Linked DNA regions of Homo sapiens. The protein of the gene in region 2 interacts with the protein of the main gene of each other region in a biochemical or structural test. Each region holds a gene or a part of one and is shown on either strand. Other genes may lie near its edges. The genes, in order: MAGI2, KIF17, HTRA1, RAPGEF6, PDZRN3, TJP2 and PDZK1.

Region 1 (3,500 bases), on a different chromosome or scaffold from region 2:
CCTGCACTGGAAAGATTAATTTTGTTTTACTTAACTGCTTGTGAGCTGGCCTTATAGCAGGTTAAGAAAGTGTCCTTCTGGCTTATAGGGAAGCTGTAGAGCCAGGAAACCATGTGGAGGCCCATCTTCAAATCAGGGCTAGACGGGGTAAGAGGAGGCTGGTGCTAGATCACGGGGAGGGCTGCCAGTCTCTGGTGTCAGCCCTGCCTGGGTTTAAATTCCAACTTGGATGCTTCCCAGCTGTCAAAGGATTGTGGTAGTGGGGAGAAACAAAGACATGATGTGCATGCCTTCTGCTTTTGGACTGTGGATAATCCTCTGACTTGGAAATGCGTATCATAGAAATGCAGACTTGGTGGTAGAAATAACAGATTCAGCCATCAGGGAAAATTGGTTGGTGAGGCTCTGCACAAGAACCTGAGGTTCCGGAACCCCAAAGCCACAGCTTTTCTTTATTAACTTAAAGAGGCAGGAGGGAGGGCAAGAATAAATTCTAGATTTTATTCATACACCGACACACACACACACACAAACACACAGAGAGAGTAAAGAGACTAATATTTTATATTGTTAACAAGCTTTGTTTTATACCCTTAAATGAAGAATCAGTTACCCATCAATCAGATGCCTCAAAGTAATTATTAAATGAAAAAATCTACTCTTAACTTTAATTGGAAAATTTCTAGCTGCTGTCTTTTTTTTTTTTTTTTCTTGAGACAGATTCTCACTCTGTTGCCCAGGCTGGAGTGCAGTGGCACGATCTTGGCTCACTGCAACCTCCGCCTCCCTGGGCTCAAGCGATTCTCCTGCCTCAGCCTCCTGAGTAGCTAGGACTACAGGCGCCCGCCACCACGCCTGGCTAATTTTTTTGTATTTTTAGTAGAGATGGGGTTTCACAGTGTTAGCCAGGTTGTTCTCCATCTCTTGACCTTGTGATCCTCCCGCCTCAGCCTCCCAAAGTGCTAGGATTACCGGTGTGAGCCACCACGCCCGGCCCCTGCTGTCATTTTTAAGAACAACCTGTATCCAAGAAGCCAAATCCCTTTTACTCCTAATGCTTCTGTCTGCCCAGTATCAAACCAAAAGACCAGTCAACACAAAGGAAAAATTTCCTAAAAGTCCCGCAAAACCATGTGATTAATCAATATGGGGGAAAAAGCACAAAACTAAAAATAAATTTCAAAAGATTCAACCTTAATCAAAACAGAATCATCAAACCATAGAAAGAATTATGGAGAAATAATGTTTCCTTTTCAAGCTATTTCTTAGATTTCTTTCATTTGCTCTTTAGAAAAATAGTACTTTACTGAGGTTAATCAATTAGAAGGTCATAAGCAGAAAAATGAGAATGAGAGATATTATAAAATAGCAAGTGGCCAGACTTTTAAGAAACTGGGTCATCATCAACTAGAAAGAGGGCAAACCTACAGCAACCCCGCTTGACAGCATGCTTCAGTACTCTTCCAATACCACAGTCGGTTTTTCTTTCAGAATTAAGCAATTCTATAAAAAGAGACTGTTCTTACCCTCATCCTCCCATTCCTTATTGCTGGTCCATCTTCTGCCAGTCTCAACACATACAAATCCATTTTGTATTCCCTTCCTCCACGAATGCTGAATCCAAATCCTTTGGCTCCTTTCTCCATGTCCACAGTGAAATAATCAAAATCCTTTGGGGTTGGGGAGAAAATGGAATAAATAATTATTTAGTTATCAGAGAAGCTTCTGTGGCTAGTCTCTGTGTTCTCCTTCTGTCTCTTAGTTAATGTATTCCAAATGACATGATGTTGGGAGAAGTCGTAATCTGGCTTCATAAACTACCCAAATGAAAGACAAAATTCCAAAGGTTTGAGCAGGCCAGAGCACAGTTTACTTGGTCATCAAAGAATTACTGTGTAGCTTGTTTACTTTGGTATTCATCAGTTTACTTGGCAAACGTGGAATGATTACAGATAGGCCTGAGTGACATCATCTCTCCTTTTACTTCTCTCATTCACTGCTATTGAGCACCATAAATAAATGTCAGGTGTGTGTGTGTGTGTGTGTGTGTGTGTGTACAAATTACAGAGTTTGCTGATTAGAAAAGTAAAATTTAGTGGGATCTGATAATTAGATCTCTCAGTTGCACAGACTATTGAATATCAAGTTGGAATGTACAAAATCAATTTCTCTTTTACCTAAAATGCAGTATGTCCAAGATTCTCTGATCTTCACTATTCTTAAAATCTTTGGGCATAAAGTTGATCTTCAATTCATAATAAAACACAATGTAATCTGATAGAGTTGAGATTGTACTTAATTTATATCTTGGTATGTAGTTACGAAGTAGGAAATATTTTCTAGATACCAAACTCTGGTCTAGACTCTTTTCATAAATGTTGAATCCTCATCCTGGCCTGTAAGGAAGACTCTCCCTTTAGGAAACTGAATCTCAGAGAAGTTAAGGAAGTTGACATGAAGCACATCAACAAATAATCATAACAACAGTGACACTGGTTGTGTAGACAGAGAGTTGTTGGCTGTGGCAGGCGCTACACTCTGGATTGTGAAGCCAAGCCTGGTCTTATTCTTACGCACAGGGGCTTGGCCCTTTATCACAGAGTGGCAGGTAGGGGGCCACGTAAAAAAATATGGACCTAAAATACCTCCACTGCTAGCATCTATAAAATTTTCTGCATTAGCAGCACTCTCAGAGGTCCCAGGTTAGAGCATTTTTAAAACTTTGACAAGGAAACGTACAAGGAGTTAGCTAGTATTAGCAGGGATTAGTTTATTCCATTACTACTCATCCGCTATTTATTTATGTATTTATCCATATTTATTTATTGTCCTGCTTTATTCTGAAATAGATTTATTTATCCAGCATGTTTCTGAGGATGCAGGTGTTACCCCGATGTTACCAGAACTAGGAATAGAACTTCAGCTCTCCATCCCAGACAGGTACTCTTTCCTCTGCCTCTCCTATTTCATTCCTTGCAGTTCTCTGGAAGCCTTGGTCAGGACCCACCCTGCTCTCCGGGAGGAGGTACCTGGGGTTGTCTGTAGTCCGACAGAGGGTACTGCCTGGTGTCGGGGGAGTGCTGCCTGTAGTCCAGTAGGGGAGGCTGCCTGTAGTCCAAGGGTGGGGGCTGCTGGTAGTCCCCTCCTGGGGGTTGCCTGTAATCCAGCGGGGGCTGCCTGTAGTCTGTGAATGGAGGCTGTCGGATGTCTGGTTTCACATCTTGCCTTGCTTTCACTTCCGACCTGTAACTAAATCAATGGAAATGGGATTTGCTTTTGTAACTCTGCATTCTAAAGAGGCTAGAGTGATCACACGGCCTCCAGAGGTGGGCCAGCCATGACAGCTCACACAAACCACTCCTCTCGGTGGTCCTGTTGGATGCTCAGGATTATGAGAAGGTTAAATATTATTTAAAAATCTCTGACAAATGCCATATTGTATGCTTTTTATTTGGCTCCTTACGAAGTCAAGGTAAAAATGATGGTTCAACCAGAACCTT
Region 2 (3,500 bases):
CATGGGCGACAGAGCGAGACTCTGTCTCGAAATAATAATAATAATAATAATAATAATAAATAAAATAAAATAAAATAAAATAGAGGCCGGGCGTGGTGGCTCATGCCTGAAATCCCAGCACTCTGGGAGGCTGAGGCAGGAGGATCACAAGGTCAAGAGATCGAGACCATCCTGGCCAACCCGGTGAAACTCTGTCTCTACTAAAAATACAAAAATTAGCTGGGCATGGTGGTGCGCGCCTGTAGTCCCAGCTGAGGCCAAGGCAGGAGAATTGCTTGAACCTGGGAGGCAGAGGTTGCAGTGAGCCAAGATCGCACCACTGCACTCCGGCCTGGTGACAGAGCGAGACTCCATCTCAAAAAAAAAAAAAAAAAAAAAAAAAAAAAAAAAAAAAAAACAACCACCACCACCCATGCTTTAAGAACATGCATTTCTGTTGCACTATAAAATATAGGAGATAGGTCTTGCCACTGAGCTTAGAAAAAGAAAAAAAAAAAAAAAGACAGAATATGAGAGACGGGAAAATAAAGTGACTTAGGAATCCCAATTACTGCTTCATGAACCCTGTGAGGACCCTCTTGGTCTGAGGATTACCAGCAGGAAACCAGAATGTGCTGCTTGTCCTCTGAGTTTGAGGCTGAAGTCTCTGTCCTTCACCGGCAAGATGGGCCACCGAACCATCTACTTTCCCTTGGTATTTATGACTGTGAGTACCTTTGAATGAGGGCCAGAGGGGGTTGAGGGTCTAGGTGCCAATGGAGGGGCATGAAAAGGATCCAGCCTTGGCCCCTTCTTTAATCCTTAGGCGGGAGGAAAGTGGAAAACCAGCTCTCCACAGTAACACTGACCCACAGCACTGGGGGCAAAGCCCTCCCAGCCCCCGACACCCCACTCCCTCTCCCGCGGTCCTCACCATGTTCGGCTCGCCATTGTCTGCTGCAGAGGTTTTGCGGGCTGGTTTGTTCTGTGGCCCAGTTGAAACTGCTATGAGAAAACAAAAGCTGAAGTCACTGCTGCCTGGTGCAAGGCCTAGAGGAGGGCACAGGTGGAGGTGGGGGTCAGGCCTGGCTCAGGCTTAAACAGGGGAGGACACTTCCCAGCCCAAGCCAAGGGATAATTTTAAGAAACAGACAGCAGGAGGGGCTCAGGCACCAGAGAAGACCCTCATCTGCTTGCAGGCAAGACAGCAGCCAAGGGGCTTCCAGGCAAGACAGCAGGCGAGGGTGGGGACAGACAGGAAGGCTGCTGCATCCCAGAGCATGTGGGAAATGGAGGCGGGCTGGGGTCTCAGCAGGGATGGTGTCAATAAACATCAGAGATGTTGGACCTGGATGAACACGCTGAGCAAGAGGGAGGACTCCTGGGGGGCACTGCGGGCTCCCCAAATGGGCAGAGTCAGGTCCACGGCTGGAGAAAGAGCCACAGCATGTCTGGCTTTACTCTGAGACTCATCAGAGGTGAGGAGGCTTTCAAGGTCATCTGATCCAACCCCTTCTTTGTAAAGAAGCCCAGAGAGGGACAGTGATCTTCGGAAGGCCATACGGGAGGTCAGCAGCAAGAGCGGAAGTGGAACCAGGCCTGAAACTCTGAACTGTGGGTTTTGATCCATGGTCCTCCCACTCACTGCTGTGACTGTGACTTTGGACCCTCTGAGATTGTGTCCTCCTATGTGAAATGGGTAGAAAACCTGTCTTCTCAGGGCTGTCGTAAGGATGAACCAGTGACAATGCTGATTAGGATAACAATGACATGCAGCGAGCATCACTATGTGCCAGGCACTGCTGTAAGGGTTTTCTGTGTATTAACACATTTCTGGTTTTTGTTTTTTCGGGGTTTGTTTTGAGACAGGGTCGCACTTTGTTACCCAGGCTGGAGTGCAGTGGCACGATCTTGGCTCACTGCAGCCTTGACTTCCCAGGCTCAAGCGATCCTCTCGCCTCAGCCCCCATAGTAGCTGGGACTACAGGTACATGCTGCCATGCCTGGCTAATTTTTCTATTTTTTTTTTTTAGAGACAGGGTTTCACCATGTTGGCCAGGCTGGTCTCGAACTCCTGGACTCAAGCAATCTGCCAGCCTTAGCCTCCCAAAGTGCTGGGATTACAGGCGTGAGCCACCATACCTGGCCTATTAACACATTTCAAACCTTACAGCAACTTTAAGAAAGGTGCTGTTATTCATCCCCATTTCACAGATGAAGACACCGAGTCCCAAAAAGGGCACACAGGGAACGGTGCTGCCAGAATTCCAACCCACATCTGTCTGCCTCCAGAACACACCACTTTCTCAGAGTCCTGACGCATCAGGTACCCAGGGTCACGTGTCTTCTACACCCACAGCCTGCAAGGAGAGGCCCACACTCCCTGCCAGTCTGCAGGATGGTAAGCCGTGAAGGAGGGAGGGGAGGGCAAGGGCCAGCCAAGCTCCTGACCTACTGGGAGGCTGGTTTTTGTGATGACGGGATGTGGGATCTTCCAGAAGCCGTTATCTTCGTCCCAGCAGGACTCACGCAGAATCTTCTCCAGGTTGCTGTAGTTACAGTCCCTGCGAATCAGGGGCTGCACCTGCTCCAGGAGCTGCTGCAAGAGCATGGAGTCACGCTCCTGCCGGCGGATGGTGGCCAAGTAATCGATCTTCTCCAGCTGAAACTCGGACTGCAGATCTTTGATCTCCACCTCTGCTGCCCGAAGCTGAAAGCAAAGGATGACAAGCAGTGAGCAGGGAAAGATACCTCCCCTTCCATCTAACCACCCTGTCCACTCACTGTCCTGCCAGCAGCCACGCATCGTCTGTTCATTGGCCTGATCAGCCATCCATTCTCATCCCCACCATCCATCCAGCCATCCTTCCCTCCATCCATCCATCCACCTCCTCTCACACCCACTGATCCTTCCGTCTATCCAATCACCCTGCTGTCTCTCCACCCAGCATTTAAATGAGCACCTAATGTGTCCCCCCAGCCCTGCAAAATGTAGGGGAAAAGTTGATCAGCAATCCCAACAGCCAGCCCCTCAGTCACTATCTCCCATTGTACATTTTATTCAGGAGCCTTTGAGAAGTCCCCACATCCAACACCACCGTTCTAAAGGATATCAGAGAATTGCACAAGTGACATCTCTAAGGAGGACAACAGGCACAAACTCTCCGACTTGACAATCCTCACTCTCCCACTGCCACAGCCCTGTGTGACGGTGTGACAAACACTGGACCTAAACAATGGACCTAAGAGTAAGACCCACCTTGATCTGATCAAGGGTTCCAGATTCTTTTGGTCTCCTGCTCAAGTCTGCCAGACCGGTCCCCCGGTCCCTCCTGAGCACAGGTGACTGCCAGCCCCAGCCATAACCACCCTCTCCCTGAGCCCCAAGACTACCTGGTGCACAGTCTGTTTCCTCAAAGAGCAGGTACAGTCTGATTAGTAAAGAAGGATGTTTGAGGCAGGGCGTGGTGGCTCACACCTGTAATCCCAGCACTTTGGAAGGCCGAAGCGGGCGGATCACT
Region 3 (3,500 bases), on a different chromosome or scaffold from region 2:
AGTGGCGGTGAAAGCTTCGGAGGTTATAGGAAAAAGGAAGGCTCTCTTTACTTGCGAAACAATTCGATATGAACCACGGCAGGGGCGATCTTCTCCACCACGTCCGCGATAAAGTTATATTTATGGCGCAAACTGTTGGGATCTTCCTGCCCTGAGAACAAAAGCAAAGAATAGATACTTAATGACACTCTGCTGTGGCCACCTAGAGAAAGACATGGGTTAGAGGAAGCCAAGATGCATGCCCAGCCTTTGGAATTCTGAAGGCGGAGTGAGCGCAATTCCCCCACCTGGGCTCAGCTGCAAATGTCCATCCACCTCCCAAGGGAGTGCCCACCCAGGTAAGGCAGTAAAATCCACTAATGATAACCTCTTTGCTCAGGTTCACCACAAAAACGTTGAGCAGAGGCACCAGCAAATGCTTCAACCTCACACCAGCCTTTCCAAGAAGCTGATGGCCCAAGTTTGTTTTTTGTTTTTTTTCAGTTTATTTTTAGATGGAGTCGCACTCTGTCACCCAGGCTGGAGTGCAATGGCGCAATCTTGGCTCATCACAACCTCCACCTCTCCGGTTCAAGCGATTCTTCTGCCTCAGCCTACTGAGTAACTGGGATTACAGGCACCCACCACCTTTGTATTTTTGTATTTTTACTAGGGACCGGGTTTCACCACGTTGGCCAGGCTGGTCTCGAACTCCTGACCTCAGGTGATCCACCTGCCTCGGCCTCCCAAAGTGCTAGGATTACAGGCGTAAGCCACCACACCCAGCCAAGGGTCCCTTTTTGATGTGGCATCACCCTCTGCCTGCGTCCCTTCCCTGAGTCCCCACCATTACAAAGAAGCAACAACCCTCCTGAGAAACACCGCAGGAGCAAAGAGCACCGGGGCTTTTTCTAGGAGAGGCCCACCAGACGGGTACATCTGAGATTATTACGAAGAAACACGAAGGCAAAGGGGCAGCTCCTATCTTTCCCACTGACACCCCAAGGCAAGCTGAGGCCATCGTCTGTCCCCAAAGCAGTTTCCGCCATGCCTTAACCACACGTTCCAACCCTGCCCGGGACATCCCAGACAAAAGGCATAAGAGGTGCCTTAAGACTGTGGGTGAGAAAAAGAGAAAAATCAAACAACTGTAATGCTTTATACCTACAGTCATGCACCACATAACGTTTCAGCCAGCCGCGGACCATAACACCATTGTTTTTACTATACCTTTTCTATGTTTGAATACACAAATACTCACCATTGTTACAACTGCCTACAGTATTCAGTACAGTAACCTACTGTACGGGCGTGCATCCTAGAAACAACAGGCTCTGCCATCTGGCCTAGGTGTGGAGTGGGCTCTGCCATCTAGGTTTGCGTAGGCACACTCTGTAACATTCCCACAGTGATGAAATCGCCTAACGACGCATTTCTCAGAACGTATCCCTGTTGCTCAGTGATGCATGACCGTTTATATTACAGTGAGTGGCCCCACGTGGTGGGCGTTTCCAAAGCTACTTTCAACAAAGCTGTCACATGTCCCGATGTGAGGCTCTCACCCAGCAGGGCTACAAGTTAGTTTCCATCAACCAGAGGCACATACCCAAGGTAACTGATTCAGAAACGGACTGCTAGAGATTCAGGGTCCTGGGCTCCCATTTTCGTGGCACGGGTGGTGGCAGAGGCAGTGTGTCCCTGGAAGTGCAGCCTTAGCCTACTACTCCGGCTCCTAATCTTGCCACCTGCTGCTACCTCTTAACAAGTCTCTGCTAAAGCAGGCTGGAGAGGTTCCAGGCTGGTCTGCAGCTGAGAGCCATGCACCCCATTCTTCCCCCTTGGACTAGCTCAGCGTTGCACAAGCAGGCTCCAGGGACCCGCACTCCTCTGCTAGCTGCTCACTACGAATTGACAGGAAGCTTTCGGAAACTTTCATAGCAATTTCACATGGTAATCTTATGTCTGTTGCACTGAAAAATGAGTAACTGGGGCTTGTATTTCCTGTCTCACATTTTGTATTTTGTAGGTATTTTGTGTCTCATTTACCAACAGGCCTGTGTGCCTGCCCCTAACACACATGCATATATACACAGAGATGCAAATGCACACACACACACAAACTCACACATACACACTATGCATACACACCCACAGATGTACATGCATAAACACACCCACACATACACCCACATTTACACACAAACTGTCACATAAACACCTATACACACTTCCACACACATTCATATACTCACAGATGTGCACATACATACAGTCACACATATATACATGCAAATGCACACATACATACAGACGCATACACACACACACACACACGCCTCTCTCATCACTAGAGTGGCAACCCTTCCCCAGGCTCTAGGCTATAAGTAAAAGCTGTGAGACGTCCCAGCCCTCTTGTGACCCGTCACAGCTTCACACCCACTGGTTCCCACATCCCTGCTGCACTGGGTCACGAAGGGCCATAGTAACCCAGCTTGACACCATGGGGCACAGGGACATCGGGAGGACCACCTGCCTCTCCCACGCTTGCTTTCTTGGAAGTGAGAGCGCTTCTGTGAACAAAGGGCCGTTTTCTGTCCTAGCCCCTGACCTCTGAGTTGCTTTATTTAAAGATTGGAATCATCTCCTTTTACATAGCATGGTTTTTTTCTAAGGTACAGAAAAAGATCTGCAACTACTTGGAAGAATAATTTAACAAATTCAGAACAGTATCATATTATTATTTTTGCTTTCAAAACCCTTTCATTGGCTGCCTTAATTTAATTTTTTCTACCTTCATGTGGAATAGGAAAATCAGGTATCCTTCCCATATTATATATGGGGAAACTGAGGCTCGCAGACTTTAAATAACTTCTCCATGGACACTGAAGTTTCTTAATAGAGAGTATAAGTAACAGATCTGGGCAAGCCCTCCCAAGCCCACAGTGTCACCAGATCTACAGCTTCTCACTTCAACACTGGCCTCCTACAGATCTGCTACCCTCCTAGGTTTCCAGGTAGTTGCAAATAATTGGTGTGTCCCCCCGAGCACTCCAATGGGAGGTGTAAATAAGGGAATGGAAATGTTCCTTCTGAAAACAGAGCCTGGCGAATGTCACCAGACAGCTGTAAACAAACGCATCTGGGCTTCCTCAGACCAGCTTCCTGGGGAAAGGCCAAGAAGAGGTTTAACTCCAGCCAGGCCAGAACACAGAGACAGCGTGGTGTTTCAGAAACTCTCACAAGAAGGACCATTACCAGCGCCTTCCCACTAAGGATCATTAACTCACTTCCTCTTTCTGGCTTCCTGAATTAGGTATGGGAGAATTTGCCCACACCAGGGGCAAAAATGAAGATGGATTGAAGGTGGATTTTGCTGGGTAAAATGAGAGGCAGTTCCCTTCTCACACAGTCACATAAAGTGGTTCCAGGGTCTTCCCACCAGGAAAGCAACAAGGGAGATCAAGGAGGATCTGGCCTGGCCACTGGAAGGCCCAGTTCCAGCCTCAGTCCACTGAGCAGCC
Region 4 (3,500 bases), on a different chromosome or scaffold from region 2:
GACAGGACAAGTTGTGAGAACACAACCAGAAAAAGAATGACATCCCCGTTTAGAAGACTTAGGGAAAGAATGCTTTCAAGGGAGAGACTAGTCAACAGCCAAAAAGAGGACACAGATCACAATCAAGCTACAGAAAGCTGTGAGAAAGTGAAGGATGTTGGAAGCAACATCAAAGATGAGAAAGGGAGTGCCATCTTCAATTCAAATAGCCAAGGCAACAGTAACACTTTAAACTGCTTCTATACGCGATTCAAGTCTAAAAGGAGGAAGACACTCTGATGAAGTTCCTTATTTAATTTTAGTGTTAAGTTTGTTTTCAGTTATTAATGTATACATGGCTTAAATTAAACCATTTGTCAAAGCTTAGGCAGACAACTTAGTAAAATACTATTTATAAACACTTGAAAATGCCTCATTTGTACATAAGTTATTTTACTGATGTATTGAGTTAGTAAATTTTATACTCTTGTTTTCTGTAGTTGACTTTATTTCCTACTGTTAGCTGGATCTGTGAGTGAAATATGTAGAGGAGGCTTTTTTATCTTCTACTTTTTACGTATCTTTGATTGGGGGAGAAGGGACTAGTCTAACATAGCAATATCAGAATCATCTGGGAAACTTGTTAAAAAATGCAATTACTGTGTCCCACCCCAGACTTCATAAACTTGAATTGCCAGAAATGGGATCTGGAATGTTTATTTTAATTGGCTTGCCAGGTGGTTCTTAGTATTATTATATTTGAGAAATACTGATCAAATAGACATAAGAATGAAATTATTTTTTAAACAATGAAGCAAGATTATTGTGTAGAGCAATGACTTTTTCTTTTCAAGAAGAAGGTTTTTATTTATTTTTAATTTACTTATTACATCCACTTTCTTGGTCCTCTTAAAAATTGACTAATCAGCTCATGGACATTGACAAATAGCAGTGATCCCAAGTTCAGAGATGTATGATAGACGTCAGAAGACTGGCTTGTCTTGGCTTACCCTGTTCCTGTCCACGTAGGCCAAATATAAATCACACATTTTCTAGGCCTTTTTCTCTTTGAAATAGTTAACGAAACGACTTAATAAGATTACTGTGCAACAAATTATTCCTTAAATGACTTGAGTTATATGTGAATAACTCCAAGATCCATAAACAGAGAAAGACTTGGAACTAAGGATGTTGTCATCCTCTTTCTGCATGAAGATGAGGCCCTGAGAATTCCAGTAACATACCCAAAGCCTGTAATTCTTCCTAATGACATTTCTAGGTATTGGTCCAAAGGTCACATATCTACTAAACCCTACTTTCCTCTGTGAGCAAGAAGATATTTTTTACTTCTTTGAGACCCGTCCCTTGTTGGGATTACTAGGGCATTTTCTTTTTCTTTTATTTCTAAACAAAAATTTGGTTTCTTCCAGTTATCAAAATAGATTATTATGTACATTAGCCATTCTGTTGCAGATTTGTTTTTGGGTCCTTCACCTCAGTGCGTCCCTAGAATACAGAAGAACATCTCTCTAGTTGTCTGCTGTGCAGTAAGTCACAGAACAACATAGAACATGTAGATGCTGTTTTTTTCTATAACACATTATTAAACATGTATCCACTCAGCTGTTTAATATTCTGCAAGGTTGGTGAAGAAAAAGGAAACTAAGTATGACACTAAGTTTAAACCTAAAACAATTTAAAAAACTGAAACAGGCTGGGCATGGTGGCTCATACCTGTAATCCCAGCAATTTGGTAGGCTGAGGCGGGAGGATCGCTTGAGGCCAGGAGTTGAAGACCAGCCTCGGCAACATAATGAGACCTCATTTCTGCAAAAAGTTTAAAAATAACTGGGTGTGGTGGTGCAGACCGTAGTCCCAGCTACTTGGGGCTGAGGCAAGAGGACCACTTGAGCCCAGGAGTTCGAAGCTGCAGTGAGCTATGATCGTGCCATTGCACTATAGCCTGGCAACAGAGCAGGACCCTGTGTCTAAAAAATAAAAATAATCTAAAACAGTGACTCTCAACTCAAGACAAGACTTCTTAGGTGGGATATGCAGAATATATGGGGTAAGTATATATAGTTTGATAAAGCAAAAATGTAGTTCTTTCCCTTGAGTCCTGGACTCCCACCCCTACCCTTACTTCAAGATGGTATTTGGGATTCAGATCAGGTCAAGAAATATTCATATTAATCAAAGGAAGGAGCGTTGGGTTAAAAAGAAGTTGAGAAACCCTAAAGACATGTACTTATTAATATTTGTAATCTTCTTATTTTATTAAATGATTATAGCTGTGGGAGAGCCTGAGAAAGATATACCTTTAAACTAGTTTTCTGAGTAACACTGGACTTTGACTGTCTTTTTCTTGAATGTGTAGTTGTATTGGTGTGGTGTGGATAGTAGGCAAATGGTTATGTAGGGGAATGTGTGGAGAAAATTGGCACCATTATATCTACATAGATGGAAACTAAAATTGCTTCTACTTTGTCTTCTGTTATTTTTGTGGGGTTTTTTTTTTTCATCCTTTCCCCTACTACCCCCACCATATGTTCCCTTTTTTTGTAGTTTGATCAGTGCTCTTTTCTTGTTCAGGTTACACACTTATTCCATCAGCTAAATCTGACAACTTGTCTGACTCCAGCCATAGTGAGATTTCTTCACGGTCCAGCATCGTGAGCAATTGTTCTGTTGACTCCATGTCTGCAGCTCTACAGGATGAACGGTGTTCCTCTCAGGCCCTGGCAGTCCCTGAATCCACTGGGGCATTGGAAAAGACAGAGCACGCTTCAGGGATAGGAGATCATAGTCAACATGGCCCTGGGTAAGCATCATTGTCTGTGTTCATAACACAAAACCCAAGCCAAGTGGCCACTGCAAGGAGTGCTCCCCACCTTGACCTTGGACCTCCCATGGGGTAATTGCAGAGTTATCCATAAAAGAATATGTGGGCCAAGCACATATTCTCTATTCTGAATATGTAAATAAGCACTATGTTGAAAGATGTATGGGTGTTCATTTTTAAAGTGTTACTAAATTCAAGTAACTTTTTATCATTATGTATCTTTCCAGTCAGAACTCAAAGTGCATCTGCTACTTATATAGGGGAGATAATTTTTGAAATTCTGGCTATAGGTTAATCAAAAAGGTTGTGTTTTGGAAAGTGCCTCGAGTGCTGTGCACATTGTAGACAGGTTGGGAGAGTAGGACTAGCCCTTGATCTCTGTCCTCTGAAAGTGTAATTTGGGGAGTAAGAATAATCACCTAGCAAAGGTTAATTAAAAAAAAAAATCAACTCTAAATTTCTATTTAGAATCAAGCAACGTGGAAATCTTTGAGAAAGTTTATTCTAACTGATAAATATTGTGAAATCTGGTCTACTTTAATATGAAAAATTTAAGATAAATTATTACCACATTTATAAAGATTTCTAAACTAGGATCTCTACACCAGAGGTCAGCAAATGTTTTCTATAAAAGTTACATAGTAAACATTTTAGACTTCACAGGCCATAAGGCCTCTGT
Region 5 (3,500 bases), on a different chromosome or scaffold from region 2:
TAATGGTCCTAATGGCTTGTGAGCTCCTTAAGGGCAGGCAGAGTGGTGACTTCGTGATTTTGCATTTCTAGGGCCAAACAGTATATTTAATGTAAGAGACAATAAAATGAACAGAATTGAAAATAAACACGAATATAAAGTCTGATGGCATCCAAGGTCTAGCTTAAAATATTAATACCAGACTAGTTTTCTAAACACCTGCGTTGTGTCTGCTTTTATTCATGAAAAGAGAGAAGCAGTCTTAGGAACACAGTGTCACATGCCTACGAGGGGCTCAGTCGTTCCTAGGCCCTGATAATGTTACACTGCAGGGACAGTGTGGACAATATTCGTGACTTGGCGGCACATCTCGACACTGCAGTGAATGAAAGGCACCACAAAAGCCTCGCTGGTGTGACTCAAGAGAACAAGAGGAAATGATAGCTTGGGCTGCTTTATCTGGGTCTGTGGCCTGTAGGTCAGGGGTCCTCTGGCTTTAATGGGCACCGAGGTACCTAGGAACCTTGTTAAAGTGCAGATTCTGATTCTGAAGATCTAGGGGGCCAAGTTTCTGTAGTTCCCACATCTCCTAGGTGAGAACTCTACTTTGACCAGCCAGGCTGCTGGTCCTCCTACCACACTTTGAACAACAGGGTTCTAGGGAACAGTTTCTGAGTGGCTCCCTCCTGCTGAAAGCAGGATGCTCTCAGGTGCTTCATGCTTTGAGGAGAAAGACTCAGTCTGGGCTAGTCTTAACACTTCTTTAATACTAGCTAATCTCCTTAGAGAAAAGGCAGGATGTAGTGGCCCCAGGCTCCCAACCCTCAGCAGGCACCCTTATTGAGCACCAGGATTTAATAAATAACACTGGCTTGTGTCCACTGTATTTAATTGTATGGGATTTTCTATTTAAGGCAATGGATGCTGACTTTCTGCTTGACGCAGTGGTATAGTGTTTCCTTTAAAATAAAATTACCGTAGTTTAAATAAGTTGAGTCGAATTAAAGAGAAATAGAAAGCACGTAAGAGTTCTGGTGATAGTCAGGTATAAGGAAAAACTGTAAGGCAGAATGGCCCAAATTGGGCAGATACTGTGGGGGCTCAGTGAATCTCCTGAAACCATATGCAAGCTCTCACAGACAGGAGCATTTTTCCAGAGCGGGGGGCTGTAGGTTCCATCAGATTCTCAAAGGTATTAGAAACTAAAAAAAGAACTAAAGAACCCACTGCTACAAAGTCAAGTTTAACTAAATACCAAAGACTACAAAGTCTCTACTACTTCATAACTCTAGCTTCTGAAACACTTTACAGCTTTTTAAAAGAACTCTACTTTGCCACAATTACATCATCAAAAAGCAGTGTCGTCCCATAAAGATTACGAAATAGCCCTCTGTTTGGAGAGCAGTGTTTCTCCAACAGTGTTCCAGAGAACTGTAGACTGAGGAAATATAAACAGGTACTTGGCCAGAGAGGTGGGGGAAATTCTGCCCACTCCCCCAGGGGATTCTAGGTAGATAGTCAAGATTCTCAGAAGTCCTCCAAGAAATCTGTTTCGTTGTCTTCAGTCTGGCATTTCCCAAATGTATTTCATTATGAACCCCCTTTGGAAGGAACATACATAACAAATTAAGGAACAAGTGTCCTGAAGGAGTCACGGCTGCTTCACCAAACAGCCCTGAAGCTGGGGTGATAGGACACTAAATAAGAGGCAGAATCCTGATTTTTGAAAATGACAAAACTACATTTTCTGGAACAATTGTTAAATGGCAAGCGCTTTGGTAAGTGGCTGACAGCAAGCAGAAACAGTCAAGTTTTTATAGTGAGAATACTGGCCATTGCTGTTTAGACCAGGTGCATTTAGGGAAAATTTTAAATTTCTGAAAACTGGCACAGAGTCAGTCATGCCACTGGCAACAAGTCCTTTGATTTGACTGTATCTGGCTAACCATCAGTGAAGTCATCGTTTGCACACAATTATTGATTTTTAACTTCTGTCTTGGAATGAGAACTCTTGGTAACTTTAAGTTGAGGAACATAGCTGTTTTCTACTATTTGACTGCTTCTGTCCTTGCACAGAACCTACTGCCACTGAACAATTCAACTTCAGAAGTATTGGTAGGACAGCATAGATTACACAACAGTTAGCCATGAAATTGGATAAAATGTTCGATTTTTCCTGGGTGACCTTTTGATGGTACCCAAGGGCTTACCTGTCAACATCAGGTGTCTTTTTACCTTATTCCATAAAATCAGCTTTCAAAAATGCTGTTATATTTTTTGAAACCCCATTGAAATATAAAAGTGTTTTCCCCAAAATATAAATATATTATACAAGTTAGTGTTTTCTGTATTTTCTATCACCCTTAATAAAAGGAAAATGGGAAGTAGAACTCTGTTGGCAACCTGGTGTCCTCTAAATATTTTAAACCTTAACAGAGACCTATTTGACATTATGTAGCATCTTGAATCTTTATTCCTGTGTGGCCTCAAATAACACTTAAGAAGAGTTGCAGACTTGTTTAATTTCTTCTGTATCAATGTTAGCAAACTTGAAGCAAGTGAAGCAGTGAACAAACCCTTTTGTTAGGGCGGGCTAGCATTCACTCAAGTAATTTATCCACCTACTCTTGAGCCATCTGCCTTTGAGTAAAGAGTGGTGATGACATAAAAGGGAGGAAGGTGAGGAGGCTTATGTTAGTTACAAGAATGTATGGATTATGTGGATTCAAAGGTTGACAACAGGATTTACTGTCCTAACTTTTAAGTGATTCAAATTAAAAAAAGTTTACATTTCTGCTTTTGGGACTTGATTATTAAGCTCTGTTTCCAAGGAAGGAAGAAGAATCTCAGTTGTGCCTTTCAAAGGGCATCAGTAAAAGTGGTTCTGCTTTTGTTACTTTCCATCGGCATCCGTAAACTAATTTATGCTTATAGAGAACTTATTAGGCATTCTGTGTTCTTAATAATGACTCCTAAAATGAGACAAGGATGTTCTTCATACCTCCAGCTCCAGCTCCTCCCTGTCCATCTCCTGATGGATGTCTCCAATGTAGTCATTTGGATCGTAGTATTCATGGGCTGAGGGATGCCTGAAAAGAGATGCAACATCTTTACAGCCCTTCTTCCGTTGTCAGTATCTGTTTTTCTTACACCCATTGTCAGGCCAGTGGCACAGTAGCAATTCCCAGGGTGTGGGCCCTTTCATGACTCACTTCCCTCTGGATGGGGCTCTCAGCACGGTCAGGACCTCCATCATCCTAATTTTACCATTTGCCTTTAGTACATTTCCTCCTGAAGGACTTAAGATGCAAAGTGCAAGCCTGATGGGCTTTGTTGTTTGCAGAGCCCATCCCGGAGCCTGCCAGTCACGTGATTCAGCGTGACTGATTTCTAACTCCATCTCTACGCAGGAAACAGGACAATATTTTACTGCTTATTGCTTCATTGTTAGATTTTATCTCTGCAGAGAACTAGGCTCGAGCCCAGGCAACAGTCTAAGATATGTGCTGGCCTCTGAGATC
Region 6 (3,500 bases), on a different chromosome or scaffold from region 2:
TAACTATTTTTCAAGGAGTCATGAACACAATTTCAAATTCTCCATTCAGATTAATTAATTATTTCTTCTACTCTTCAATTCTTTATTTCTCATTTTTTAGCAAAGGGACTACATTTACATTTCACTTACCTGTAAAAAGGTGTGCACACGTTTTTTTAAGCTTGTTGGCTTGATCAAATAACTTTCGAGAACTTTTGTTGGACGTTGGATTTAACCTTTGTCTCATGGTTTTGACACCTTGTCTGGAGTCTGGGTTGAAAAAAATCACAATTGGGAACCACTGGGTGTAATTCAACAGGTCCACAGCTTTCGGAGTCACATCCAGTAGTGCATGCTTATCCTGTTTACAAAAGGGGAAAAGTTAGAGAAATGGATATATAAAGTAATATAGCATCAAATACTTTGTTTTAATAAGTAAAGGCTGTATGAGATATATCTTGTTTGTTTGTTTGTTTACTTATTTGGGATAGATTCTTGCTCTGTTGCCCAGGCTGGAGTGCAGTGGCACAAACTTGGCTCACTGCGACCTCCGCCTCCCGGGTTCAAGCAATTATCCTGTCTCAGCCTCCTGAGTAGCTGGGATTACAGGTGCCCGCCACCACCATGGCCAGCTAATTTTTGTATTTTTAGTAGAGACAGGGTTTCACCATGTTGGCCAGGCTGGTCCCAAACTCCTGACTTCAGGTGATCCGCCCGCCTCTGCCTCCCAAAGTGCTGGGATTACAGGCATGAGCCACCTATCTTGTAAATTTAAATCAAGAAGCAGAACACATTTCCTTCTACCTAATGCCCACTTCAATATTACCAATGTGTTAGAACTTCTGATAAAATGAATTAACACATTATTTGGTATAATGCTGGGAACTCTGGAAAAAAAAACAGTATGTTACTGCCAGAGAACAGTAACAGTGACTGGTTTCCACACAGTGAAATGGTTTGCATTTACATTATATATATATTTTTTTGAGATGGAGTTTCACTCTTGTCGCCCAGGCTGGAGTGCAATGGTGCAATCTCCGCTCACTGCCAACAGTGACTGGTTTCCACACAGTGAAACGGTTTGCATTTACATTATATATATATTTTTTTGAGATGGAGTTTCACTCGTCGCCCAGGCTGGAGTGCAATGGTGCAATCTCCGCTCACTGCAAACTCCGCCTCCTGAGTTCAAGCGATTCTCCTGCCTCAGCCTCCTGAGTGGCTGGGACTACAGGTACCTGCCACTGTGCCCGGCTAATTTTTTATATTTTTAGTAGAGACAGGGTTTCACCATGTTGGCCAGGCTGGTCTCGAACTCCTGACCTCAGGTGATCCACCCGCCTCAGCCTCTCAAAGTGTTGGGATTACAGGTGTAAGCCACTGTGCCCGGCCAATTTTTTATTATTAACATTTAATGATTAAAAGTACAGATACTATCCTAAAAGTGACTGCAGCAAACCATAATCTAATTCTTTCTGAAAACACGGTCTGTGGATGAATTTTCTCACCTGTTCAATAATTTGCCTCACGGTATTTAACCGGACCACTCCAGTGGATTTCTCAGATCCTGCATCTTTTGGTTCCGTTTCTGCAAAAGCAAAAACAGGAAGCTAAATAATTGTTTAGAAAACAGTGACAACCAAATACTCCCACCTAGCATCAAGCAATGATGGCACACCTGACATTAAGTGTCTCCTAACAAGATTCAGTGGGAAGGACCCACATAACCTGCTTAGTGGAAATCTAATCATGAAGAAACGGTTAGGCCAGTCCAACAGGAAGCATTCTAGGAGACAACTAGCTTGGATTCTTCAAAATATCAGTGTAACAAAGTTATTTAGAAAAAAGAGGGGACTGGAAAGACATAAAAATCACAAAAAGACATAAAAATCAAATGTCATGAATGGTCCTTGGTTGTATTCTGAATTTAAAAAAAAGCTATGAAGCACATAACTAGGACAATTAAGAAAACGTGGAAAATGGACTATATACAAAATCACACCACATCAATGTTACCTTTCTTGGCTGTGATAATGGTATTGCAGTTATGTGGGAGAAAGTCCTTGTTCTTAGGAGATTCACACAAGTATTCAGGGATAAAGTGTTATAAATGATTCTGCAGAAATTTTTCAAAGAGTATGTGTATGTGTGTGTGTATGTGTGTCTATGGTGCAGGCAGTGGGTGAGAGAAAATGCGTGACAAAATGTCAGCAACTGGTGATTCCAGGTGAAGGGTACGTGGGTGTTCATGATTCTTCCAACTCCTCTGTTAGAAATTTTTCAAAATAAAAATTTGGGGGAAAAAAAAACACTGACAGACTTACTAGCAGTTTGAAACCAGTCAGGTAACTCATTAGCCAATTTTTCCATTGCTATATCAGCTATGGGGCCGAATAAGACCACAGGTCTCTTGAAACCAGCTGAAATGACAAGAAAGGCCATTAAAGCATACACACTTGCCTAGCTGTTATGATAAGCAGTAAAAGTATTGTATGGGCTTTTGATAACATAACTAAACGAAAGAAACTGTGGTTTCTCCCCAATTCAGCTTGGCTCTGTTCTGAAGAATATGCCTTCACTATCCTCACCATTTAAAACAATTTTTTTCTTTTCATTCAACCACATGCTAACCTAGATTTTTTTTTAAGAGACAAGATCTCACTATGTTGCCCAGACTAAACTCAAACTCCTAGGCTCAAGCCTCCTGAGTAGCTGGGACTACACTGCCTAGCTCCTCACCATTTTTAAACACAAACTTTCCCATTGATAATATATGGAAACTTTTTTTATTTTTTGCAGAGATGAGGTCTTACTATATTGCCCAGGCTAGTCTTGAACTTCTGAGCTCAAGTGATCCTCCCACCTTGGCCTCCCAAAGTGCTACGATTATAGGCATAAGGTACAGTGCCCAGCCAATATACCGAAACTCTTGAACAGTGGTATTAAAACATTTTTTAAGTTGCAGAAATAAGCCTCAATTTAGGAACTGAAACAGCTTTTTATAAATCATGCTCCTTGTTAGAATTTGATTTCAACTCTATAAACTGCCTTTGGCATAACTGACATACATAAGTTAGAACTTGACCATACAGTCTGAAAATAAAGGTGAACAGGCTCAGAGCCCAGTCAGTTCATTTCCAGGCCCCATGTGACTTCCTCACCTTCTCGCAGCAAAACCCTCTCATAAGCTGGGAACTTGGTGCTGACAGACACAACAGCTGTGAGGTCTTCCCGACTTTTCCTCAGGTTCTTCTTCACCCCAGACCTCTGGCCACGCATTCTCCAGAAATCTGCCCGGTCCCCAGCGTTGTCTCTCTGGGCATTTTGAACACTGGCCATTTGTTCAGCTCTGAGAAGAAACCACGGGAAGTAAATCTCTAAAGCCAGAAAACGCAGCTAACATGCATTTCATTAATCAAATCCAGTCAATTTTACTTCTGAGCTCAGAGAAGATTCCGCTTGACAATGAAGAAGTTTCAGAGGGTGGGAAATGTGGGGACCTTCACTTCCAAATGGGAGCA
Region 7 (3,500 bases), about 130 Mb from region 2:
GTGCCTTGTGGGGAGAGGCTCTGTTGTCTTCGTGGTGTGATACTGACGGCATAATTGATTCCTAGTTACTATTAGATAAGGTGATGGTGGGTTCAGGTGTAGATGACTATATTTATGGAATAATCCTGCCACTTCTAAGTCCCAGACCTTGGAAGATGAGCAGAGATGACAGTACCTGGGCTGTTTCTTTCCTGATGGTATTTCATTGCATCTGGCCATCGCTGGTGACAGCCCCCTTCTGTCTTTCTCCCTCCAAGCAGAATGCTGTTTATCCCATGCCCTCTCTCTGATCTTTTGGCATTTCAGTGATGCTGTCTGGTGAGTGAGCCTATTCACTAGCTACTCCTTGGCTATGAAGGTCCCTCTCTGGGCCAGGTATCTATAGCTAAGGTAATGCTTCACTCACTCCATCTTCTCCACTGCTGTCTGTTCCTTGGGTCCCTATGTTCACTTCTGTTAGAGCTTATCCACTCCAGGCGGTGGAACTCTCTGGCCAGCTTAGTCTTGAAATTCTGTTAAAGCTCCCTGGACTCTTTTACCTCCTTGATACACAGCATTTGGTTCTATTTTGTAATTCCCTGGCTTTTAGACTTACAGGATACTTTTGAGTCCAGAGTTTATTATTTGAGCTTTCTTTCATGGGGAACAAAATCTCCAGCCCTGACTTTTCAGCAGCTAAAATTAGCTTCGCAGAAGTGATCTGGACTGAGTAGATAGAGAATCCCTTGCCTGATCATTGAGGTGCCTGCCCATTCTTAGTCTGTAATTTCTTCCTGTCTTCTGCAAAAAGAAAATCAGGAAAAATTTCAAATATTCTCACAGAAAATGGGATTCCCATTGCATCAGGCGTTTCATCAGAGGACAGGAAAGAGTAACTTGGATGGAGTGGACTTCTATGCTCCAGAAACTGTGCTGAGAGGCCTTGCATGCTCTACTGTGAGCCATCTTCACGGCATCCACATGTGCTTCCTATTCTAGGGGTATTCTATCTTCAGCTCAAAATTAAGGAACTCACCCATGTTCTTACAGTTAACAAGCGGTGAAGCCAGGATTAAAAACTAGGTTTGGCTCTAAAACCCTTGCTCTTTCTACTCTACCTTACTCAGAATCGATCCTGGGGGAAGATGGAAACAAAAATACAGATTCCCTTTTGTATACACATCTGGCTCCTTTAGAATTGCATCATGGGGAACTATTCTGCTCTAAAGATCTTTTCAGATAACTTTTCCTGTGTCAACCCACTAACTTTTGAAACTGCTTCCACAGTCCCTTCTTCTTTCTTCCCAACTCATGCTGCTAAGCTAGTCCCTGAAACATTTCATCTTCCCAATCCCAAACTCCTAGCTCCTCTTATCTGCCAATTCATGTTGGCCCCACAGTCTGACATTCCAGCTCTGTGCCCCTTGTAAATCTAGAAATCCTCACATCCTACTCTTATGGGCTTGTTAGTTTGAGATGGAGTCTTGCTGTGTCACTGAGGCTGGAGTGAGTGGTACAATCTTGGCTCACTGCAACCTCCACCTCCCGGGTTCAAGCGATTCCTGTGCCTCAGCCTCCTGAGTAGCTGGGATTACAGGCACGCACAACCACGCCCAGCTAATTTTTAAATTTATTTTATTTTTTTTTAAATTTGAGATGGAGTTTCACTCGTTGCCCAGGCTGGAGTGTAATGGCGTGATCTCAGCTCACTGCAACCTTTGCCTCCTGGGTTCAAGTGATTCTCCTGCCTCAGACTCCTGAGTAGCTGGGATTACAGATGCCCACCACCAAGCCTGGCTAATTTTTGTATTTTTAGTAGAGACAGGGTTTCGCCAAGTTGGCCACGCTGGTCTCAAACTCCTGACCTCAGGTGATCCGCCTGCCTCGGCCTCCAAAAGTGCTGGGATTACAGGCATGAACCACTGTACCTGGCCTTTATTTTTTATTTTTTGAGGCAGACTCTCGTTCTGTCGCCCAGGCTGGAGTGCAGTGGTGCAATCTTGGCTTACTGCAGCCTCCGCCTCCCGCCTCCCGGGTTCAAGCAATTCTCCTGTCTCAGCCTCCGGAGTATATGGGGTTATAGGTGCCTGCCACCACACCTGGCTAATGTTTTTTGTGTTTTTAGGAGAGATGAGGTTTCACCATGTTGGCCAAGCTGGTCTCGAACTCCTGACCTCAAGTAATTCACCCGTCTCGGCCTCCCAAAGTGCTGGGATTATAGGTGTGAGCCACTGCGCCTGGCCTACCCTTATGTTTTAAAAATATGTTAGCCCCAACTTAGGGTAAAAGTTACCACTTTCCTTTTCTATTCTTGATGTATATTACTGTAAGAAAAATCCATGGGAACCCATGCTGCTGCAAGTTTATTATATATATATATTTTAACCTAAGTTGTTTCTTAGACATTTTAATTCAATTCATTGACTCTTTGTAGTGAGCTAATGCTGTGGCCATTAGTTCACTGTCTTAGTTCACCGCCAGCTCGGGGGCTCCATTCTCTTTTGGTTTACATAGAATTTCTTTTAAGTTTGAAATAGCTGTCAGTTTTTTTAAATGGGGACATTTTATGTAAATCTAGATTTCCAGAGTCTCTTGAAAATTGAAAGGTGGCATGCTGGCCTCCTCTTCCTCAGGCAGTTGTCTTCTCATGAAAAGCAGCAGCTTTTCCTCCGTCCCCTCTCGGCCACCTTCGCTGATTTACCTGTTTGACCCTAGAGATTATTTTTCTGTGGTACTTTTGCTCCATATTCTCCAAGTTCCTGATTTTTGTCAGCTACTTCGTAGGAGAGATTGAGGCTGAGGTAAGTGACCTTGTTTTCTTCTTTATCATATTTTTTTCTACTTCTCTTCTGCCCCTGGAGAAGAGGTATTTCCTCTCACCAAGGCTAACCCCAGTTTCCATGTTCTCCATATCATCTCTTGATACAGAAACATGCTGATCGTTTCCTTAATGTTAAAAATAAAAACATCCAGGCTGGGTGCAGTGGCTCATGCCTGTAATCCCAGCACTTTGGGAGGCTGAGGCGGGCGGACCACAAGGTCAGGAGTTTGAGACCAGCCTGACCAACATGGTGAAATCCTGTCTCTACTAAAAAAAAAAAAAAAAAAAAAAAAAAAAAAAAAAAATTAGCTGGGCATGGTGGCGGGTGCCTGAAATCCCAACTACTCAGGAGGCTGAGCAGGAGACTTGCTTGAATCTGGGAGGCAGAGGTTGCAGTGAGCTGAGATCGCACCACTGCACTCCAGCCTGGGTGACAGAGCGAGACTGTCTCAAAAAATAAAATATCAATATTCGTTGCTTCTGTTACTTGGTATCCACTTGCTTCTTAGTGTTTTATCAGGCCCAGACTTCCATTTTCTGAATGTCAGTGGCATTTTCTGTTTTCATTCTCTCTACCTCTTAGCATTATTTGGCATTGTTAACTATCCCATCTTAAAATTCTTCTTTTAGTTTTGATGACACTAAAATTTTGGCATTTTGTTTTCTGATTATTCCTTTTTGCTTCCTCTTTCTTTTCTCT

The links.
Region 1: the proteins of KIF17 (region 2) and MAGI2 interact in a test that uses a peptide from one of them, tested with the Homo sapiens proteins (one large-scale study listed by IntAct).
Region 3: the proteins of KIF17 (region 2) and HTRA1 interact in a test that uses a peptide from one of them, tested with the Homo sapiens proteins (one large-scale study listed by IntAct).
Region 4: the proteins of KIF17 (region 2) and RAPGEF6 interact in a test that uses a peptide from one of them, tested with the Homo sapiens proteins (one large-scale study listed by IntAct).
Region 5: the proteins of KIF17 (region 2) and PDZRN3 interact in a test that uses a peptide from one of them, tested with the Homo sapiens proteins (one large-scale study listed by IntAct).
Region 6: the proteins of KIF17 (region 2) and TJP2 interact in a test that uses a peptide from one of them, tested with the Homo sapiens proteins (one large-scale study listed by IntAct).
Region 7: the proteins of KIF17 (region 2) and PDZK1 interact in a test that uses a peptide from one of them, tested with the Homo sapiens proteins (one large-scale study listed by IntAct).

What each region holds. Positions count from the first base shown.
Region 1 is NC_000007.14:78,124,168-78,127,667, forward strand, and holds part of MAGI2 (membrane-associated guanylate kinase, WW and PDZ domain-containing protein 2), read right to left. Parts: intron 3,250-3,500; coding exon 3,030-3,249; intron 1,671-3,029; coding exon 1,527-1,670; intron 1-1,526. UniProt on the Homo sapiens protein: Seems to act as a scaffold molecule at synaptic junctions by assembling neurotransmitter receptors and cell adhesion proteins. Plays a role in nerve growth factor (NGF)-induced recruitment of RAPGEF2 to late endosomes and neurite outgrowth.
Region 2 is NC_000001.11:20,669,508-20,673,007, forward strand, and holds part of KIF17 (kinesin-like protein KIF17), read right to left. Parts: intron 2,690-3,500; coding exon 2,431-2,689; intron 985-2,430; coding exon of another isoform or gene 982-984; coding exon 914-981; intron 1-913. UniProt on the Homo sapiens protein: Dendrite-specific motor protein which, in association with the Apba1-containing complex (LIN-10-LIN-2-LIN-7 complex), transports vesicles containing N-methyl-D-aspartate (NMDA) receptor subunit NR2B along microtubules.
Region 3 is NC_000010.11:122,485,553-122,489,052, reverse strand, and holds part of HTRA1 (serine protease HTRA1 precursor), read right to left. Parts: intron 152-3,500; coding exon 52-151; intron 1-51. UniProt on the Homo sapiens protein: Serine protease with a variety of targets, including extracellular matrix proteins such as fibronectin. HTRA1-generated fibronectin fragments further induce synovial cells to up-regulate MMP1 and MMP3 production.
Region 4 is NC_000005.10:131,432,730-131,436,229, reverse strand, and holds part of RAPGEF6 (rap guanine nucleotide exchange factor 6), read left to right. Parts: coding exon of another isoform or gene 1-279; exon of another isoform or gene 280-469; intron 470-2,571; coding exon 2,572-2,800; intron 2,801-3,500. UniProt on the Homo sapiens protein: Guanine nucleotide exchange factor (GEF) for Rap1A, Rap2A and M-Ras GTPases. Does not interact with cAMP.
Region 5 is NC_000003.12:73,397,942-73,401,441, forward strand, and holds part of PDZRN3 (E3 ubiquitin-protein ligase PDZRN3), read right to left. Parts: intron 3,069-3,500; coding exon 2,981-3,068; intron 1-2,980. UniProt on the Homo sapiens protein: E3 ubiquitin-protein ligase. Plays an important role in regulating the surface level of MUSK on myotubes. Mediates the ubiquitination of MUSK, promoting its endocytosis and lysosomal degradation. Might contribute to terminal myogenic differentiation.
Region 6 is NC_000009.12:69,236,777-69,240,276, reverse strand, and holds part of TJP2 (tight junction protein 2), read right to left. Parts: intron 3,329-3,500; coding exon 3,141-3,328; intron 2,400-3,140; coding exon 2,304-2,399; intron 1,568-2,303; coding exon 1,488-1,567; intron 341-1,487; coding exon 130-340; intron 1-129. UniProt on the Homo sapiens protein: Plays a role in tight junctions and adherens junctions. Acts as a positive regulator of RANKL-induced osteoclast differentiation, potentially via mediating downstream transcriptional activity.
Region 7 is NC_000001.11:145,697,369-145,700,868, reverse strand, and holds part of PDZK1 (Na(+)/H(+) exchange regulatory cofactor NHE-RF3), read left to right. Parts: intron 1-3,500. UniProt on the Homo sapiens protein: A scaffold protein that connects plasma membrane proteins and regulatory components, regulating their surface expression in epithelial cells apical domains.